Linked DNA regions of Homo sapiens. The protein of the gene in region 1 interacts with the protein of each later gene in a pairwise test. Each region holds a gene or a part of one and is shown on either strand. Other genes may lie near its edges.

Evidence for each region.
Region 2: the proteins of RAP1B (region 1) and RAP1GAP interact in binary tests that used the Homo sapiens proteins (3 or more experiments, as listed by UniProt).

What each region holds. Positions count from the first base shown.
Region 1 is NC_000012.12:68,613,788-68,617,697, reverse strand, and holds part of RAP1B (ras-related protein Rap-1b isoform 1 precursor), read right to left. Parts: intron 1-3,910. UniProt on the Homo sapiens protein: GTP-binding protein that possesses intrinsic GTPase activity. Contributes to the polarizing activity of KRIT1 and CDH5 in the establishment and maintenance of correct endothelial cell polarity and vascular lumen.
Region 2 is NC_000001.11:21,667,564-21,671,473, reverse strand, and holds the start of RAP1GAP (rap1 GTPase-activating protein 1), read left to right. Parts: upstream 1-2,116; 5' UTR 2,117-2,220; intron 2,221-2,880; exon of another isoform or gene 2,881-2,963; intron 2,964-3,650; exon of another isoform or gene 3,651-3,876; intron 3,877-3,910. UniProt on the Homo sapiens protein: GTPase activator for the nuclear Ras-related regulatory protein RAP-1A (KREV-1), converting it to the putatively inactive GDP-bound state.

The DNA.
Region 1 (3,910 bases):
AACAGTATGTCATCATTCTCACTGAGGAGGCAAGGAGGTTGGAAAGCTTCAGAAGGAAAGTACACATTTTGCTTTAAAAAAGTCATTGTAGTGATGGCATTACGGATGATACTCATTTTCTTCTTTATACTTTTCTATATTTTAAACATTGGTAAGAACGTCAAAAAGACATATTTGAACTCAGCCAATCTTATAAATACAAATCAGTACACTATCTCAAGTTTGTTAATTTCAAGAGCAGTAGGAGAAAACAACAGATAACATATGTTATATATCTCATCCTATCCCTCAATTCAAGATTCCAGAGGAATTCCTGCATTTTGCTATTGTATTGAGAAGCTTGTGGATAACTTAGAAGCATCAGCCACAAATATGTTGGCACAATGTAGTAATAGGATTCCACATTCTAACTGCAACTTTAAAACACAAGGTAACAAACAGCTGGATGCAACATACATACCTTTTGGCGCATAAAAACTAAGTAAAAATAGATTATATATATAGTCCTTATTTTATTGATACCCTTTCAGTTCTATTAACTGAGAACTTAGAAAGTCCCTGAATTTAGTATAAAGTAACTTTGAAAAATATATTCTAATGTGAGGATAAATTTTAGAATACACAGATAATTATAATTTCATTTTACCCAGCATTTTCCATTTCCTTTCCAGAAGCTTTCACCAAAAATTGCTACTAAATAGACAAAACATGTTTCCTTTCATCTTTTTCCCTTCCTACAAGGCAAAGAAAAAGGAAACAGGTAGAGGCAATCCACCACTTCGGCAATCAGTTCACTGTATATTTTTAAAATAAAGTTACTTAGTGAAATGCTGGGCCAGGCACAGTGGCTCATGCCTATAATCCCAGCACTTGGGAGGCCAAGATGGGCAGATCCCTTGAGCCCACGAGTTTGAGGTGAGCTTGGGCAACATGGCGAAACGTCTCTACAAAAAATACAAAACCTGGCCGGGCGCGGTGGCTCATGCCTGTAATCCCAGCACTTTGGGAGGCCAAGCCAGGTGGATCACCTGAGGTCAGGAATTCGAGACCAGCCTGACCAATATGGTGAAATCCCCTCTCTACTAAAAATACAAAACTTAGCTGGGTGCGGTGGTGTGCGCCTGTAGTACTAGCTAAGGCAGGAGATCTGCTTGAACCTGGAGGCGGAGGTTGCAGTGAGCTGAGATTGCACCACTGCACTCCAGCCTGGGGGACAGAGAGAGACTCCGTCTCAAAAAAAAAAAAAAAAAAAAAAAAAATTAGCCAGGCACAGTATTCCCAGCTACTCGGGAGGCTTAGACTGGAGGACTGCTTGACCCCTGGAGGCGGAGGCTGTGGTGAACTGAGATCGTGCCACTGCACTCCAGCCTGACTGACAGAGCGAGACTCTGTCTCAAAAAAAACAAAAAACAAAACAACAACAACAAAAAAACAAAGGCCGGGCACAGTGGCTCACGCCTGTAATCCCAGCACTTTGGGAGGCCGAGGCAGGTGGATCTCGAGGTCAGGAGATCCAGACCATCCTGGCTAACACAGTGAAACCCCGTCTCTACTAAAACACAAAAAATTAGCCAGGTGTGGTGGCGGGCGCCTGTAGTCTCAGCTACTCGGGAGGCTGAGGCAGGTGAATGGCGTGAACCCTGGAGGCGGAGCTTGCAGTGAGCGGAGACCGTGCCACTGCACTCCAGCCTGGGCGACAGAGTGGGACTCCATCTCAAAAAAAAAAAAAATCCAAATTATTTACTAGAGTTTTTAATGGATGCTCACTTCCTTTATTCAGTCTATCTGCACAACAGTTAAAAACATTCAATCCCCCAGTACCGGAAAAAAAATCACAAGTTATGAAACCAGAATTCAGCTAAAATTTAAAAGGTCTCACTGATATATGTATATGTGTGTGTGTATGTATGTGTATATATATACACATGTATAACTACAAAAACATAAAGTAAAAGTAATTACAAGTAAGCTTTAGGAAATGGTTTGATATAAAACTCAAACTCACAAGATTAAATAATTACTCTCTATGGTCAGAGAGACAGATTTGTAACTCAAAAGAACATTTCTAGTATGCAGGCACCTCATACACAATCTAAGTAATTTTTTTTTTTTTGACAGTCTCACTCTGTCGCCCAGGTTGGAGTGCAGTGGAGCGATCTTGGCTCACTGCAACCTCCGCCTCCCAGGTTCAAGCGATTCTCCTGCCTCAGTCTCCCAAGCAGCTCGGATTACAGGCACCTCCCACTACGCCCAGGTAATTTTTTGTATTTTGAATTGTATACTGATATCACAGAATATACTCCTCCTGTACAATAAAAATCAGATGGAAATTCTGTAACTCATGTTGTAAATATTTTTATTTTAGGGAATTTAAATTAAAAAAAACTGGTACATTTCCCCCACATTTTCATTTTTTCCTGTTTTAAGGTTCTTTGGAAAGTTTTAAAAATTTTGACCCTCTACTGATTCAAAGGAAAAAAAATCTTTCTAAATTACTGCTTAAATAATCAGTTGCTACTGTACCCTTGATTTGACCAACATTAGGAATAAATAGTCCAATGTTATGAAATACGGAATGTAAGTGATACTATTTTTTGTTGCTGGTGAATTTTAAAAAGTGATGTTTTTAAGGCAGCACAAAAGTTCCTGATAACTTTTCTTGTTTAAAATAGAAACTCTCCACGACCAAAGAGACTTGTTTTAGAATCCAGTGCTCAACTGGGTTCAAAGTACAACAGATTACATACAAATCAGTTTTTACTGCAAATGGATAAATTCATCTATTCTTTGTAGCTACTGCTTCCACTGTGCTTATGAGATTTACAAAGAACTTAAGACCTCAAATGGCAATTAGTACCTTTCAATACCATTGCAAAATAATCTATGAACACAGAAAAACACTAGCTTCCAGAGCCATGGTACAGTACTCCTGTTTACAGATGGCTGAACTAAAAATTTTGTCCAATGTTACAATGAATCACTGCATCAGCCAAAATGTCTTAACTTGTTCTAAAATTCAATTCAATTTGAAAAGGCTAACAAAAACTTCAGCCTAATCTCTTAGACCATGGAGTCCTCAATAATGACAGGAGGGGGAAGAAAACCCAGGGCATATTTTTAGTCACAACCTATGTCTCAGAAAGTTTAAGACAGACCAATCTTTACCTAACTTTTCTATAGAGTGAACACGTGACATCACTGCTATAAAACAGCAGTAAATAGCTAATTCATAAATGCTAAATTACTCCTAGTGCCAGTCAAATCTAGAAACTGCAGATCAATACCCAACCTCCTCTTTAGCAACACAAACATACAGAGAAACACAGTTATTTTACATCTTTAAGGAAATGAGGCAAATCAGTAAGATCTGTGTGATAGTCGATAATAAAACAGCCTATTTAAACAATACTTATGGGGAAAAAGTAAATGGACACCTTGTAAAATCGGTCAAATTCTCTGTATCAGATCCAATTTCAGATTAGTTTCACTACCTCAATAAATATTTATCGAGTACCTACAACAAAAGGCAAAAAAAACCTGAACGTGAGCTTTTCATCCAAATCTTGGACTGCATTTAAAATAACATGTCTAATCAGTTACCATGTTATCAATCTTTGCATAGACCTTCCACCAATCTTGAATTAGATAGGAAGATACAATTGAAAGGATCCTTACAAAAATGGATCTAGTTATTTTAATAATTAATTCTTTGCTATACCCTCCTTACATGGTAGCTCTTTATTATGGGAGGGGGTCACTTTACCTTTATACAGCTAAGAGAAAATATTGGAATTCTGAAAAGGATTGAGGATAAAACGAAAATTAATTTGTCAAGTAAAAGGGATTCCAAAGCCAATATGTAAATGTTTCTTTTTAAAGGATTACACTGTTCTCTTCAAATATCCTCTCT
Region 2 (3,910 bases), on another chromosome or scaffold:
AAGGATCCTGGAATCCATGTACTTCTGAGATCTGTGAGCCCCGCCCCTGCTGAAGATGAGCCAGCCCCACCCAGTACATGCTGCCCTTGAAGGTCTATAGGCATTCTGCTGGCATTTCCTAAGTAGGATGTATTTGACCAAGCATCTCCCAGGACCAGAGCCCTGCAGGACATACCTGTCTAGGGCAGTTGCTATGCCCCACAGTCCCTTCACCATCATCCCCAGAAGCGCCTCGGCCAGCCTCATTCAACTTCTTGCCTTTTTATTACAGTGTTTGAGCCAACTATATAGTCCTGGTGTATTCCTAGGCAGGAGATCAAAGGGCCCCCCGGGTTGGGTGGTCCATGAGTGAGCATGTGATACCGCAGGAGTCTTCCTCCTGCCCTGACAACTTGCCTTGTACTACCAGTGCTGCTCAGGATGTCTGCAGCCACGAAGCTTCATTATAAATGCAGGAGCTCAGGCTCCAGGCCCACTGAATCTGAATCTGAGTCTACAGACCGCTCCTGCACTCTTAGAAGTTTGAGAAACCCCCCTGGGCTGGGGTCTCTTTCCCATATACAGCTAGGGAAGCTTGCTGGAGGGAGGACTGAAAAGAACAAGTGCCTGATCTACCTTCCCCTCTGCCCTTTCACAGGTGGGTGGATGCGTGGGAAGAGGGTGGGGCATTTCCTGCTATTCCCCCTTATTCACCTTTTCTCCACGGGGATTAGAGTCTTGACCGGAAAACATGGCTCTGGTCCCCAGCCCCTATGGGACTGAAAACCCGGAGGCTTGCATGTCTCAGATCCTCCAGAGGCTGATGTAAGAGTTGCTGAAGACCTCGGATCTTTCCTTTTGTGAAATGCAGCCCATGTGGCCGGGAAAATAGTGGGAGCTGGAAGTAACAGTTGTGGTTTTAAGCACACAGTAGATGCTCAAGAAATATATTGAGTACATGTCTTGGACTTTCCCCTCCCTAAATATTATCTGTCAAGTGGGCCTATTGGACTTGTTGACCTTGGAGGGCCCTGTCGGCTTGACCCACCAATTCGAAATGGTTGAGAAAGAGGTCTGTCTTTGTACCTTTTGCAGCCTGTTTTCCCAGTTCTTAGAACATTGGGGTGAGATCCAGAGATTTCAGAGATCCCCCTGGAACACGAGTGTTCTGTGACGAGTTCATGACCTTGGAGCCACCAACCATACCCCTCACCCGTTGTCCCCAGTTCTGGCCTTGCCGACCCACTGCGTGTTTCTTTGCTTCATGTGGGCTGTTCCCCGGGGAGGGAGCTCAGTGGAGAACAGAAAGAGGTGTGGGTGAGGGCTCCCCCTTGGTGGGGAGTGGGGCACAGGAGCCTCAGGCTCTGTTGACCATCAAAGAAGGGACTCGAGTGGGCAGGCCGCTCACTTGCTGTGGACCTTGGGCAAGTCTCTAACTCTCCCTGGGCCTTGGAAGTCAGGCCGAGGTGATCTCTGCCGCCCCCTCCCTGCCTGGGTTTTCACTCTTGTTCTGATCCCACTCTCTTCCGGGTGCCTCCCTTCCACTTCTCCGTAGCCTGTGGCTCCCCTCCCCACACCCGCCCTGGGCCCGGGTTAGGCTGGGGCGGGGGCGAGCTGCCCAGTCCAGAGACAAAGTCCAAGAGCCGCGAATGGGCTGGCGAGGGTCAACCGCGTGGCCTCTGCCAGGAAGCGCGCCGAGCGCCCGGGTGAGGAGGGCGTCAGCCAGGGCACAGCAGCTTTCTCGCCCAGCGAAGCCTGTGCGCCTTCCTCCCGCGCCTGCAGACAAGCGGAGCCCATGGGGGCCGTGGGCCCCACCTATCCCGACGTCTCCACTTGATCCAGAAGTTGTCCCAGTCCCCTTGGAGCATGAGCTGTTGCCTGGACAGCTGGGCTGTCGCCCAGGTTCTGCCACTGTCTAGCTGTGTAACCTTGAGCCAGTCCCTGCCCCTCTCTGGTCCTCAGTTTCCCCACCTGTAAAATGGGGGCACCGAGAACCCTCCTCCAGGACCTGCGGCGGGGCGGGGCGGCAGGGCGGGGGCCTCCCCGCCGCTCCCGCGCCCGCGGCTTGGGCTCCGCAGTGAGTGGGGAGCGGCGCCGGGGAAGGAGCGCTCCGCGGTCATGTGACGTCCCCCTCCCCGAACTGCGGCGGCGGCGAGCGCCGGCCGCATCTGAGCAGAGCTGCAGCGGCGGCCGCGGGCACCAGAGTGCCGAGCCCAGGACGCCCCCGGCCCAGGCCCTTGGGTGAGTGCGCCCCGCCAGGGCTGCGGCCCTGGAAAGGGGAAGGGGACAGAGGTGTCCAGACTCCCGTCGGCTCGCAGCGAAGACCCCGCGCGGGCGGGCGGGGACGGAGGGTGGGGGCGAACGCGTGGGGGACCCGGGTCTCCAGGGGCGAGGGGTGGGCGCAGCTGGGCTCGCGCAGCCCGGTCTTGACAGCAGCTGGAGAAGTGGGGGGAGGCCTGGACTGAGCCGGCTGAACCCCCAGCCTGTTGGACTTGGTCCAGGCCGCGGCCAGGGGGCTTTGGTCCCACCCCCCTGGGTGGGTGGGGAGTCCAGTTTTCCGCCCACCTCGAGGTGGGGGCGCCTGGGGTTTAGAGGAGGGACTGTGGGAAGTGGGCGCGTTTCCTCCATCCCTGGGGAGGGGCCCAAGCCCTAGCGCCCCCCAGAGGGTGGCGCTCCTGTCCTCAGAGGAGGGAAGTGGGGGCCTCAGATCAAGGACCCTGAGCGGGGAGGGCGGTGATGTCCTTGCATCCCCAGAGACAGGACGCATTCCCCTGTCCCTGACCCCCGCGGCAGAGCGGGGCACACGCGTCACGAAGTTGGGCGCCCCCTCGTCGCCTCCCCTGGCTCGGCAGGATCTGAGGACTCGGTGGGAATTCACGGGGCGGTTTCCGTGCCCTGCAGGGTTTGGTGCCAGCTGCGGGGCGCCTGGGCTTGGGGAAGAAACCTTGTGTACGCACACCTGCACACACACACAGTCTCCGGAGGTGAGCGGCCCCCTCCCTACCATAACAGACCCCAGCCTGTGCATGCCCTCGGAGTCCTTGTTGGGGTCATAGCACAGGCCCGGTGGTGGGGTCAGGAAGAACATCCACTGTTCTCAGGGCTCATTGGCCTCTGTCCCCGGGCTCCATTCCCCTCCCTGCCAAGTCAGAGGTCAGGCCCCTGGGGCGGCAGGCAGGAAGGACACTGAGGGAAGGGGCACTGAGGCAGGAGGGGCACTGAGGGAAGCTGGCCAGGTGGAAGTAGGAGAGAAAGGCAATGGGGGTGAGATGGTACCACTTCCTCCCCATATGAGGCTCTCAGGAGGCTCCTGGCCCCCCCTGCACAGGTAGTGGTCCCTCCTTCCTGAGGGTGTTTGGGGGAAAACGCTATGGTTGGGGCACTGGGGAAGGTTGCCTCGCAGATGAAACAGAACATTGGCCAAAGGTGTCCCTGAATGGGCTTCTGGACTGGCACAGGGCCCTGAGGGCTGTGGCTGAGTGGGGAGGCAGTGATCAGGTCCAGCTGGCCATGGGGGCCCCCCATTCCCTTCTCCATGACCTCAGCCTCACTCTGAGAGCCCCCAGCAGCTGGAAGGTCTGGTAAGGGGTGCGTGTTCCTTGATGGCCTTGGGAAGGGTTCCAGGGTAATGATTAATCCTCAGGTGGCACGAGCAATTTCCCCCTTCACAGCAATATTTCAGGGCAGGCGCTGAAGCCTCCATTGCACAGGTGAGGAAACTGAGGCTCGGAGAGGCTAAATGAACTGCCTGAGGTCACCTAGTCACCTTCAGCAAGGTCTAGAATCGTGGTACTCTGACTCTTGATGGGAGAAGATCTCCACAGCGGTGGAGAGGAGGAAGGGTGAACGCCGTGGTGGAGTGGTCCATGTGGACCTGCTCCCCTTTGCTGCCAGGAGGTGAGGGTGCCTGTGGCTGGAAGCTGGGTCAGGT